Linked DNA regions of Homo sapiens: regions 2 and 3 are each reported to be linked to region 1. Evidence: microRNA targets listed by miRTarBase, many of them from high-throughput screens and not tested one by one. Region 1 holds a microRNA gene; each other region holds the end of a gene's coding sequence.
The links. The annotated mature microRNA hsa-miR-6785-5p reads UGGGAGGGCGUGGAUGAUGGUG and lies in region 1 at 1,456-1,477, opposite strand. An mRNA with a match to its seed (bases 2 to 7 or 8) in the 3' UTR can be bound and repressed. Matches are read on the target gene's strand: a 7mer-m8 pairs with bases 2 to 8, a 7mer-A1 pairs with bases 2 to 7 and ends in A, and an 8mer does both.

Region 2: the mRNA of PHACTR4 is a reported target of hsa-miR-6785-5p. Seed matches in the 3' UTR shown: 7mer-A1 at 3,340-3,346, 7mer-A1 at 3,474-3,480, 7mer-A1 at 3,652-3,658, 7mer-A1 at 3,671-3,677 and 7mer-A1 at 3,815-3,821.
Region 3: the mRNA of SCAMP4 is a reported target of hsa-miR-6785-5p. Seed matches in the 3' UTR shown: 7mer-m8 at 3,142-3,148, 7mer-A1 at 3,133-3,139, 7mer-m8 at 2,919-2,925, 7mer-m8 at 2,863-2,869, 7mer-A1 at 2,565-2,571, 7mer-A1 at 2,430-2,436 and 3 more.

The regions. Positions count from the first base shown.
Region 1 is chr17:75,495,882-75,500,029 of GRCh38, reverse strand. MIR6785 (microRNA 6785) reads right to left here and starts at 1,482; the gene lies at 1,402-1,482. It overlaps TMEM94 (transmembrane protein 94), which reads right to left. Exons shown (of 32, transcript NM_014738.6): 23 at 3,956-4,064; 24 at 3,559-3,748; 25 at 3,223-3,300; 26 at 2,832-2,917; 27 at 2,168-2,249; 28 at 1,707-1,855; 29 at 1,492-1,586; 30 at 1,308-1,401; 31 at 948-1,118; 32 at 1-768. The coding sequence ends at 696.
Region 2 is chr1:28,495,916-28,499,915 of GRCh38, forward strand. It overlaps PHACTR4 (phosphatase and actin regulator 4), which reads left to right. Exons shown (of 14, transcript NM_001048183.3): 14 at 619-4,000. The coding sequence ends at 634. Among named protein-coding and RNA genes, the nearest start is that of SNHG3, 8.0 kb to the right of the region's middle.
Region 3 is chr19:1,923,788-1,927,787 of GRCh38, reverse strand. SCAMP4 (secretory carrier membrane protein 4) reads right to left here. Exons shown (of 7, transcript NM_079834.4): 7 at 1,775-3,680. The coding sequence ends at 3,504. Among named protein-coding and RNA genes, the nearest start is that of CSNK1G2, 15 kb to the left of the region's middle.

The DNA of each region.
Region 1 (4,148 bases):
ATTTCCAGTAAAAAATATACACCAGTAGAAACTTCTCCCAGAACTGGGGCAGAGGCTGAGGAGACCTGGGCCAGATTCCCCAAGACTGACAGGCAGCCAGCTTGAGCCAGGCACAGGAAGAGGCTCCAGGGCGAAGCGGGGGCCCTGCTCCATCTTCAGGTTCAGGCGGGAGACTCCCCCACAGAGGGAGGGAGGGGAGGCACTCGGGGCCACATCCAGGCAAGCACCACCCCCCTGCCCTCCACGGCAGCCTTGGGAGTTGGACGCGTCGGCCAAGGCTGCTGCTGTTGCTCCTCCAAAGAAGGTTGGCTTCAAGGCCGTGTCCAGGGACCCACGAGCAGAGGCACTGGGGGGCAAGGGATCTCCAAGGGGGCAAGGGATCCCTAAAGGGGGTAGCTCACAGGTGAGGGGGTTTAGGGCCCCTCTAGGGAGCGCCTGAGGCCATACATTCAAGAGTGTCCCTGGTGAGGCCCAGGGAAGAGCCAGGACTGGCCAAGGGCCCAGGCCGTCAGCTCCTCCACAGTGAGCCCCAGGGCTCAGGAAGACAGCGGGGTCTGACACGGGGAGCTGGGTTTCCAGTGCCACGGGTGCAGGAGCAAACCTGGAAACATTCATGATACAAACTCCCCTGTTCAGAAATGGGTCTGGCTTTAGCCCCAGGGACGGGGGCAACTACAGCCACCACAGCCAGTGGCTCAGAAGGGAGAGTTCATGCCCAGCTTAGTTTCAAACTGCAGCTTCTGTCGCTTCTGGTAGCGGACTCGGACCCTGGTGGGGCAGGAGATTAAAGTACAGGTTGGCAAAGATCCTTAGACCAGGGGCCGGGGCAGGACACCAGAGGAGGAGGGAGGGATGGGCAGCGGAAAGGTGGGGGAGTGTCGCCAAGGGAGTAACAGGTTTAGGGAACATGCCTGAGCCCAGAGGGAGGCGCCCTGCTGACAGCTCACCGAATCTCATGTAGCTTCACGATCTCATTGGTCACCACCACAAGGACCAGGGACAGGCAGCCCAGGAGCCATGTCAGCAGGGGCACGTCCTCCAGGCCAAAGTGGACGTGGCTGTCCCTGTGTGTCCACAGCTGCAGGTCCACAGCCGTCTGGACCACCTGACCCAGCAGCCTGCAGGAGGTGGCGGCCCCGTGTGAACCCGACACTGCTTGCTTCCTTCCCTGCTCTTCCCAGTACAACAGTTAGCTCAGGCAGGGTACAGTTAAACCACTGGCCCCGGTCCCGCCCTCCGATCCTAGCCCTGCAGAAGGCCCTCTCCTCCCCAGCCCACACTCCGCCCTCCATCCTAGCAATACTCACACCACAGGCACTGTCACGGCCCACCAGAGGTTGGTCAAGGGGCTCTTTCTCCACAGGGGCTTGGTGCGATGCACATGGGTGATGGAAATGAAGACTGGGGAAGGTGGGGCGATGTGGGGGTCAGACTTCCACAGTGGGGCTCCTCTCCCACCATCATCCACGCCCTCCCAGGGAGCCCTCTCACCAGTGTGCAGGACAATCAGGGCGGCCGTGAGCTTCTGAGCCGACAGCAGTCCATTGGCAAAGTCCTCAAACCAGGCTGGAGCCCTGTCGTCGTTGCTGCCAAAGTGAGGCATGGGCTCAGCCCCTCTAGGGCCGCAGGGAGGTAGGCTGGGGTGGGGAGGGAGGAAGCCTCGAGGCGAGGCAGGCGATGGGTGGATCTCTGGGGCTGGGACCCACCTGGGCAGCATGACGGAGGAGCAGTTGGTGAGGTTGCGGTCCCGGGAGCTGTCACAGAAGCTCTGCAGTGTGAAGCCAAAGCAGATGAGGCAGGAGCTGATGGTGAGGCTGAACTTGAGCAGGAAGCAGAGCAGGAAGTAGTGCTGGGTCTGCGGGAACAAGGCCAGTCACTCCTGGGGCGCACAGCCCCTCTGCCGGCTGCTCCTAGCTCTTCCACGTATTCAACGGGCTCTTAGTAAATGGTCAGGCCTGGGGGGATAGGGAGCTCAAGCCCCAGCAAGGGTCTTTCCCAGCTCTGTGCCACTACCTCCTCTTTGATCTGGGGGAAGACTAGGAACCAAGTGCCGGAGTTCTGCTGGAATCCCCCATCCAGAGCCTTCCAGATTAGCCCCTCTCTCCTCCCCCAATCCTCAGTCCCTTCCATGCTCACTTGCAAGGCTCACAGGGTCTGTTTTGCTTACCTTCTTGGGAATGGACTGGAGGTTTTTCCCCGTTGCCATAGACATGATGGAGCTATGGGGGGGCTTCCCCAGCAGAGAGATGCTGAAAAGCAGAGATCAGGTAGAGGGATGGTGACAATGACCCTCTGTCCCTCAATTCTCATAGAGGGAACCTCTAGGGAGTCTTGCGCGTGAGGTCGAGTCTGGTGAGGGGATGGAATAAAACAAAGGCTGGACGGCAGTGGCTCACACCTGTAATCCCAGCACTTTGGGAGGCTGAGATGGGCAGATCATTTGAGGTCAGGAGTTCAAAACCAGCCTCGCCAACATGGCAAAAACCCATCTCTACTAAAAATACAAAAATTAGCCAGGCATGATAGTGGGTGCCTGTAATCCCAGCTACTCAGGGGGCTGAGGCAGGAGAATCACTTGAGCCCGGGAGGCGGAGGTTGCAATGAGCAGAGATTGCACCATTGCACTCCAGCCTGGGTGACAGAGCGAGACTCCATCTCAAAAAAAAAAAAAAAAAAAAAAAAAAAGACAAAGGGGGTTCCCTCCATGCCTCCTGTACCAGAGGAGGTGAGACCTGAGCAGTTCCAGAACCTTGGGCTCCTGGGGCTGCACAGTGACATCCAGACACCTCCTGCTTAGGCATGGGGTGTGGGGAAGATACATGGCATCTCACCTGAGCAGAGGGTAGCAAAAGCAGGACAGCCACAGGATGTCGGTGGTACTCAGGAGTGGCGGCAGCTGGACCAGGCAAGAAAGGAACTAGACCAGGAAAGAAGCCAAGAGCCACAGTTCAATTCAGGCAAATAATAAGGGCATAGGAGCCCCCGAGCTCCCTTGCCCTGGGCCCAGATAGATGCTCACATCCTGCCAGAGGGAACAGGGGCCGGAGGGAATACTCTTCTGCCAATGAGGGTCAGCTCAAAAAGCCCAGGGGCTTCACAGAGGCTCTGGGGGGACCCCTTGACTGTACTGCTAACCCCAGCCTCCTTCCTCAGATTTTCAGCTGGCCCCTGAGTGAAGGGGTGAGTGGCACGGGGGCAATGCCTGTGCGGGCCCCACCTCACCTGGATGACCACAAGAGTCAGCTGGCACTGCAGCAGGAAGAGGAAGCACTTACGGATGCCATAGGTGGCATGCCGAGCCTAGGGACCAAGAGGGACAGATTATGGCCTGGGTCTACCTGGCCTCTCCCAGGCCCAACAGCTGACACACTTTAGCCAAGAGCCAGACGCCCAGGATGCTTCTACGAGGGGAGCAGAGGCGAATGTAACTGCCTGGGAGAGCCCGCTCGGAGGGCTGGGGAATGAGGTCCCCGGGTTCAAACAGGTCCTTTGCTGCTACTCCCACCCCAGGCGGGTCCTGTCCTGCGTCTCTCCTCCTTTGCCTGCCGAAGCACCCACCTGTTCGATAAGCCGGATGATGCTGATGGTCTCCTCCTGGCGAAAGGTCAGGGAACAGGGCAGGCTGTTGAGCTGCCCTGACAGCTGCAGGGGAGAAAGGCCATCCGAGGCCTGGGCCATGCTGATGCTGGTGGCGTAGCCAAAGGTCTCCCAGGAGCAACGGGATGGGTACAGGGGATCCAGGGCAATGCTGCTCAGGGTGGGGGACACACACACTTCAGCTGTATCTCCCACAGGACTGGGCACCCCACCCTCTTCTCCCACCATGCCCAGGTGCATTGGTCCCAGCCAGGGCGAGGTCGGCTATAGTACACACCCCCAGCCCCACGCAGGCCCATCTGATCCTCCGGTCTGGGAGGTAGAGGCTGGCCCGCAGGCTCCAGGGTCCCGCCCTGACCTGATGTCGCTCTGGAGGAAGAGGCAGCTGTTCCGCAGGTTGGCAGAGCTGCCCAGGCAGCAGGTCACCTCCCCGTACTCTTGCATGATCTTTATCATCTCACACATGGCTGAGGACAGCGTATAAGGGCACCAGAGTCAGGCAGGCAGAGCACCAAGTGGGCACTGGGCAGAGACCCATGGGACAGGAGAGC
Region 2 (4,000 bases), not on the chromosome of region 1:
TGGCCAAGGAAAGTTGTTTTTTATTTAAAGGGTAGACAGAGGAAAATGAACCAGGACAGCATACTGAGAAAGATCAATTGAAGAAGAGAGAAAATTATGGAAAAGATAGTGTTACAGAAGCCAAGAGAAGAGTTCTTTTTTTTTTTTTTTTTTTTTTTTGAGACGGAGTCTCGCTGTGTCACCCAGGCTGGAGTGCAGTGGCGCGATCTCGGCTCACTGCAAACTCCACCTCCCAGGTTCACGCCATTCTCCTGCCTCAGCCTCGCGAGTAGCTGGGACTACAGGTGCGCGCCACCACGCCCAGCTAATTTTTTGTATTTTTAGTAGAGACAGGGTTTCACCGTGTTAGCCAGGATGGTCTCAATCTCCTGACCTCTTGATCCGCCCGCCTCGGCCTCCCAAAGTGCTGGGATTACAGGTGTGAACCATTGCGCCCAGCCGAGAAGAGTTTTAAGAAGGAAGCAGATGAGGAGTATCAGATGCAACAGAAAGGTCAGGTCGAATTAGAGCAGAGGAAAGGCAGTGTTAATTAGGTATAACATTTCATTACTACTGATACATTAATAGCAAAGCAATGTACATCATGTGGTAACTTGTCTCTTTTTTAATCTCTTTTAGCTACCATCGTCCATGATGCCAAAGGTTGAGAGAGGAATCAACATGGCTGCTTTGCTGCTTCCTTCTCCAAAGTGACATATGGAGGGAACTTTAGCACTTCCCAGCACAGCCAGAATTGCATCCTCTGGGATCTTCTGAGGTGGACAGCACTTTGAATGTAGCATTTCACTGGAACAGAGTCTTATGTGCTGCACCGGGGGCAAAACAACACTTTGTCAGTGCTTTTGAACCTTTCAATATTGTAGCATGCTTGAGGAGTTTTTCCCTTACTGGCCACCAAAGTTCTGAACCACTTGCAGGTTCCAGGTTTTACTGGCTGCACCACACCCCTTCCCCTAGATGACTGCCTGTGCAGAGACACAGTTTGCACCATTAGCCTTACCTGCCCTGCCCTGATTGTGAGACCCAAATGTGTAGGCTCTAAATTCCAGCCATCAAATCCAATTCCTGGTGGGGAAAACCTTCTGGAGACCCCCAACCTTCTGATAAAAGAGTCTCTACCTCCAGGGAAAGCCTTCTTACCACACTGGCATATCAGATGAAAGCATTGCACTGTACCTCTCGTAACACAGCAATACAGTCCTCTTGAGGCACTCAAGCCTGAGAGGAAGCTCAGGATCTGACATGTTCTTCCTTTTCCTCACAAGTCATCATGATTTTTTATTTTAAAATAATCTGGAAGTAATGGGAACTTAGTTTTTCCTGAACTCCAACCAGAATCCAAATTGGTTAGATGAGGCCAGGCGCGGTGGCTCACGCCTGTAATCCCAGCACTTTGGGAGGCCGAGGTGGGTGGATCACCTGAGGTCAGGAGTTCAAGACCAGCCTGGCCAACATGGTGAAACCCCATCTCTACTAAAAATACAAAAATTAGCCAGGTGTGGTGGCGCCTGGTTGAGGCATGAGAATCGCTTGAACCCAGGAGGTGGAGGTTGCAGTGAGCCAAGATCATGCCTACTGCACTCCAGCCTGGGCAACAAAGTGGGACTCTGTCTTAAAAAAAAAAAAAAAAAAAAAATCGGTTAGATGAGAAAGCATGTATATTTTCTATATACAAAAACAAGAAAGGCGTTTTGAGCCCCTGTGCTCAGGCCCACTCCCACACTGTGGAGTGTACTTTCATTTTCAATAAATCCCCTTATTCCTTCCTTGCAAAAAAAAAAAAAAAAAAAGCCTTAGCCAGATTCAGTGGCTCACGCCTGTAATCCCAACACTTTGGGAGGCTGAGGCGGGTGGATCACCTGAGTTCAGGAGTTCAAGACCAGCCTGGCCAACATGGCAAAACCCTGTCTCTACTAAAAAGTAAAAAAAATTAGCCGGGCATGGTGGCTTGTGCCTTGTAGTCCCAGCCACTGGGGAGGCTGAGGCGGGAGAATTGCTTGAACCTGGGAGGTGGAGATTGCAGTGAGCCGAGATCGCGCCACTGCACTCCAGCCTGGGTGACAGAGCGAGACTCCGTCTCAAAAAAAAAAAAAAAGCCTTAATATTAATGCTAACGTGGCAGAAAACTAGCAGGTTACATTTTATAGGCTATTGTAGTTTTATTTACCAAATGATATTCTCTAAATCACTTCGACCAATAAATGTATTCTCCTCCTTAAAGCAGAGTTGTATCAACTCTGTGGGAGCATTTATGAGCTGTCAGTCCCCACACTTCTAGCCAGAATCACAATAAGGTCTGGCTGGGTGTGGGGTGCTGCATAGGAAAGGGTCTCTGGAGAAGCAAGAAGGGCACAATCATGGCCCACTGCTCCCCTCTTCTTCTCAGTGCTCTTTGCCCTCTCCTGCTGCGTGCTTCCTCTTCACTCCAGTGCTGATCCTCCTGCTCTCTCTGGCAGCTTCCACCTCACCCGCCCCTCTTCCACACTATAACCAGTATGGTTGGTGCTGGGGCATTGACTCAGCCCCCCTGCTTTCTGCATTTGTAATAGATATTAATATGATTTCCTAAAACAGAAGATTTTGTTGCTTTCTTTGAACTTGTATTGAAAACCATACAGTCTCACTGTTTTGCTTTAATTCCTATCCACACTATAAATGGAAGAAAAAAATTAATAGCTTCTGTTTAATCTGATGAATGTGGCTTTTTTTCCCTTCACTTTAATGTTCAAGAAGTTGTGGCTATTTCATAGATTTCTTCTGATTTATTCTGTGGGTCCCTGTTATCTGTTCTTTATGTAATCTTTCAGTAGATTTTCATCCTTTCATATCCACATTCTTATGTGGACTTGCTGAAGAAACAGAATATCAGTTCAAAACAAAACCTAGGCCAGGCATGGTGGTTCACGCCTATAATCTCAGCACTTTGGGAAGCCAAGGCGGTCAGGAGTTTGAGACCAGCCTGACCAACATGATGAAACCCTGTCTCTACTAAAAATACAAAAATTAGCCTGGCGTGGTGGCACGCATCTGTAATCCCAACTACTCAGGACGCTGAGGCAGGAGAGTCGCTTGAACCCAGGAGGCGGAGATTGCAGTGAGCCAAGATTGCACCACTGCACTCCAGCCTGGGCAACAGAGCGAGACTCCATCAAAAAAAAAAAAAAAAAAGAAGGAAGGAAGGAAAGCAAGCCCTGAATCCACATCTCCTTGAAGTTTTTTTTGTTTTATTTTGTTTTTGAGACAGAATTTTGCTCTTGTTGCCCAGGCCGGAGTGCAATGGTGCAATCTCAGCTCACTGCAACCTCCGCCTCCCGGGTTGAGGCGATTCTCCTACCTCAGCCTCCCAAGTAGCTAGGATTACAGGCATGAGCCACCACGCCTGGCTAATTTTATATTTCTAGTAGAGATGAGGTTTCTCCATGTTGGTCAGGCTGGTCTCAAACTCCCGACCTCAGGTGATCCACCCACCTCAGCCTCCCAAAGTGGTGGGATTACAGGCATGAGCCACCGTGCCGAGCCTTCCTTGAAGTTTTTTGTTTGGTTTTGATTTGTTTTGTTTTGTTTTGTTTTGTTTTGTTTTTGGAGATAGGGTCTCACTCTGTTACCCATGCTGGAGTGCAGTGGCACAATCTTGGCTCAGAGCAACCTCTGCCTCCCAGGCTCAAGCAATCCTCCCACTTCAGTCTAAGTAGCTGGGACTACAGGCACGTGCCACCAGGCCCAGCTAATTTTTGTGTTTTGTTAGAGATGAGGTTTTGCCATATTGCCCAGGCTCGTCTTGAACACCGGGGCTCAAGGAATCTGCCCATCTTCGCCTCCCAAAGTTCTGAGATAGCAGGTGTGAGTCATCATGCCCAGCCTCCTTGAAGTTTACTAACAATTGGGATAACTGAGGGAAGAGAAGTGACAATTCCACTCAGTCTATTAGAGGTCTGGATATAAGGTAGCCACACAATAACTCTAACTTGACTTCTAACCATTCTATCTTATTGATTTGGAG
Region 3 (4,000 bases), not on the chromosome of region 1:
AACACCCTTTTGCGACAGAGCTGCTGAGCCATCCCTCTTGTCCTCTATGAAGCCAGATGTTCAAGAGTTTTGCACACATTTAAAAAAGTATGCCACCCATCCTCCTGTTTAAAAAATGTATTTGAGGCCGGGCACCGTGGCTCACACCTGTAATCCCAGCACTTTGGGAGGCCGAGGCGGGTGGGTCACGAGGTCAGGAGATCGAGACCATCCTGGCTAACACAGTGAAACCCCGTCTCTATTAAAAATACAAAAAATTAGCCGGGCGTGGTGGCGGGCGCCTGTAGTCCCAGCTACTCGGGAGGCTGAGGCAGGGGAATGGCGTGAACCCGGGAGGCGGAGCTTGCAGTGAGCGGAGATCGCGCCATTGCACTCCAGTGTGGGCGACGGAGTGAGACTCGGTCTCAAAAAACAAAGTATTTGAAAAAAAATATTAACATGTAGTAAGTTTATTCTTTTGTTGTTTTTTGGTTTTTTTTTTTTTTTTTGAGACAGAGTCTCGCTCTGTCGCCCACACTGGAGTGCAATGGAGCGATCTCCGCTCACTGCAAGCTCCCCGCCCAGGTTGATGCCATTCTCCTGCCTCAGCCTCCCGAGTAGCTGGGAATACAGGCGCCCGCCAGCATGCCCGGAGAATTTTTTGTATTTTTAGTGGAGATGGGGTTTCACCGTGTTAGCCAGCATGGTCTCGATCTCCTGACCTCGTGATCCGCCCGCCTCGGCCTCCCAAAGTGCTGGGATTACAGGCGTGAGCCACCGCGCCCGGCTGGGTTTGTTTTTTGAGACAGAATCTTGCTCTGTCACCCAGGTGGCAGTGCAGTGGCGTTATCTTGGCTCACAGCAACCTCTGCCTCCCAGGTTCAACTGATTCTTCTGCCTCAGCCTCCCAAGTAGCTGGGATTACAGGCACCTGCCACCACACCTGGCTAATTTTTGTATTTCTAGTAGAGACAGGGTTTCACCATGTGGGCCAGGCTGGTTTTGAACTCCTGACCTTGGGTGATCTGCCTGCCTCGGCCTCCCAAAGTGCTGGTATTACAGGTGTGAGCCACCACACCCCACAACCCCCCTTTTTTTCTCTCCAGAGTCTCACTCTGTCACCCAGGCTGGAGTGCAATGGTGCAATCTTGGCTTAGTGCAACCTCTGCCTCCCAGGTTCAAGCGATTCTCCTGCCTCAGCCTCCCGAGTAGCTGGGATTACAGGCGTGTGCCACCACGCCCAGCTAATTTTTTGTGTTTTCAGTAGAGACAGAGTTTCACTATGTTGGCCAGACTGGTCTTGAACCCCTGACCTCAGATGATCCGCCCACCTCGGCCTCCCAACGTGCTGGGATTACAGGCGTGAGCCACTGCGTCTGGCCGATGTTTGCTTTTTACGTAGGGCCAGTGACACTGGCTTTCCATCTGTGCAAGTTTCCTTTTTTTTTGAGCCGGTGGGGAGTGCAGTGGCGCGATCTGGGTTCACGGCAACCTCCGCCTCCCGGGTTCAAGCAATTCTCCTGCCTCAGCCTCCTGAGTAGCTAGAACTACAGGCACCCGCCACCGCGCCCGGCTAATTTTTGTATTTTTAGTAGAGGCCGGGTTTCACCACGTTGGCCAGGATGGCAGGGTCAGCCCTGGGCACACCTGGCTACAGGGCACCCGGGGCCTGGGTGGGAGGAGGCGCTGCAGGGGGGCATCCTGCCAGAGGCCATATGCTGAGGGGTCTCCCAAGGGAGAAGACGGCCTGGGGGAACCACACATGCTCACAGCACAAACGCGGCAGGTCCCTGGCTCTAAGTGCAGAAACATGTATTTATTTCCAGGATATTTTCACATAACAAAACCCCAACGATGCGGCGAGGGGCCACACACGGCGGGGGAGGGGTGGGGGGGGGTTGGGCCTGCCAGGTGAGATTTTGTCTGCATCAGTGCAGGCGAGAGGCTGGGGAAGGGGGTGCCTCTTGGCAGACTGGCCGGGGGCAGGACCTGAAGACCCTGAAGCATGGCCGTGAGACCCATGGGTGCTCCATCCTGGCTGCCGTCCATCGAGACACCATGGCCGCCTCCGGGCACCCAGCGGCATTCCGTACCAGCGAGGGGACTGGCTCACATCCTGGGGAGGGCTCCAGGGCAGCAGGCGTCCTACAGCAACAGCATCCTGGGGGTGAACGGGTGGGGAGGGGTGGCAGCCTGGGGTGTCCAAAGTTGTGGTCAGCGAGTGCAGGAAATGATGAAGGAAAAGTTTCTTTTTGGCCCAACCGTTGTGAATGGTGCTGTGAAAATGTCTTGCCTGGGAGAGGTGTTCCAGGGGGAGTTGGGGGGTGAGGGGACAAGACAATTGTGGCCGCTGCCGGACCCCTCCATAAGGCACAGATTTGACGGGTCCCCTCTCATAAAAGGCCACTCCAGGCTGGGCGCGGTGGCTGACACCTATTATCCCAGCACTTTGGGAGGCCAAGGCGGGTGGATCACTTGAGGTCAGGAGTTCGAGACCAGCCTGGCCAACATGGTGAAACCCCATCTGTACTAAAAATATAAAAATTAGCTGGGCGTGGTGGCAGGCAACTGTAATCCCAGCTATTTGGGAGGCTGAGGCAGGAGAACTGCTTGAACACGGGAGGCAGAGGTTGCAGTGAGCCGAGATCACACCACTGCACTCCAGCCTGGGCGACAGAGTGAAACTCTTGTCTCAAAAGAGAAAAAACAAAACAAAACAAAACACAAAGGCCTCTCCTGCAGGGCTCCGGCTGCTGGGAAACCGGCTCTCTGCCGGTTTGCTGGGTTTGGGGAGCGGCTGTGCTCCCGACCTGGCCTGGGTCCCCGACTCTGAACTCAGGGGCGTGGAAAGACAGCCTGCCAGGGATCCCTGTTTTGGAGGCAGGGAGGGTGGCCCCAGGATACCCTGGACCAGGAACTCCCCAGGTATGGTGCACGTGGGGAGGGGGCGAGGCTGGAGCCGCACAGATCAGGGGATGGCGGGGACAGCGAGGACTCAGCTAGGCACCAAGCCCTCTATCACTGCAGGGGACCGGAAGCTGGCCCCGACGCCTCTTATTAGTTCCGGCCAAGGGCATCTGCCATGGTGACGGCGGGTGGCCGGTGAGACGGAGCTCCCCATCAGACCCGCTCTGACCTCAGCGCCAGCAGCTCTGGGAGGACGGGAGGGCGGCCGACCTGCTGCCACCTGTCCCCCGGAGTCAGGCCTCGAGACCTGAAGACAAGGCCGTACCAGCCGTGCAGTGGACGGCGGGTGACCACACGTTTCCGGGAGCAAGAGGGCGTCCTGTGGACGGCAGAGGCCAAGGGCTGCTGGGGAGTGCTTGTGAGGAACTCCGCTCTCGGATGAGATGAACACGGGTTCTGTGGCCCTGGCAGGAGGGGGGCGGTCCGTGGCCACCACCGGCTTCCACCATCCCAGCTGGGGGGATGGGGCCCCAGGTACTCCCAGCCCTCGGGACCAGGGGTAGCAGCAGGAATGAAGGGGAGGAGGTGGTGGGCGGTGGGGGCAGGGCAGGCTCCCTCTAAGGCCACTGGCCACTGCCCGGGTAGCTGGGCACAGTGGGGTACTCGGGCAGGCTGTTGCCTGAGAAGTTGTTGTACTGGGCCTCCCTCGACGGTGGGTTCCGCCAAGTGCCCGTGTTCCACTCCGTCTGTGCCTTCTGGAAGCTTCCGCCAGCCCCTCGGTAGATCCTGTGCACCTGCAAGGACAGAGGACAGGGAGGCAGAAGACAGAAAATGAGCATGGCGGCCGGGCACGGGGACTCACGCCTGTCATCCCAGCACTTCGGGAGGCCGAGGCAGACAGACTGTCTGAGCTCTGGAGTTCGAGACCAGTCCAAACAACATGGTGAAACCCTGTCTCTACTACAATATAAAAAATAGGCCGGGCACGGTGGCTCACGCCTGTCATCCCAGCACTTCGGGAGGCCGAGGCGGGAGGATCACGAGGTCAGGAGATTGAGACCATCCTGGCTAACACGGTGAAAACCTGTCTCTACCAAAAATACAAAAACAAAAT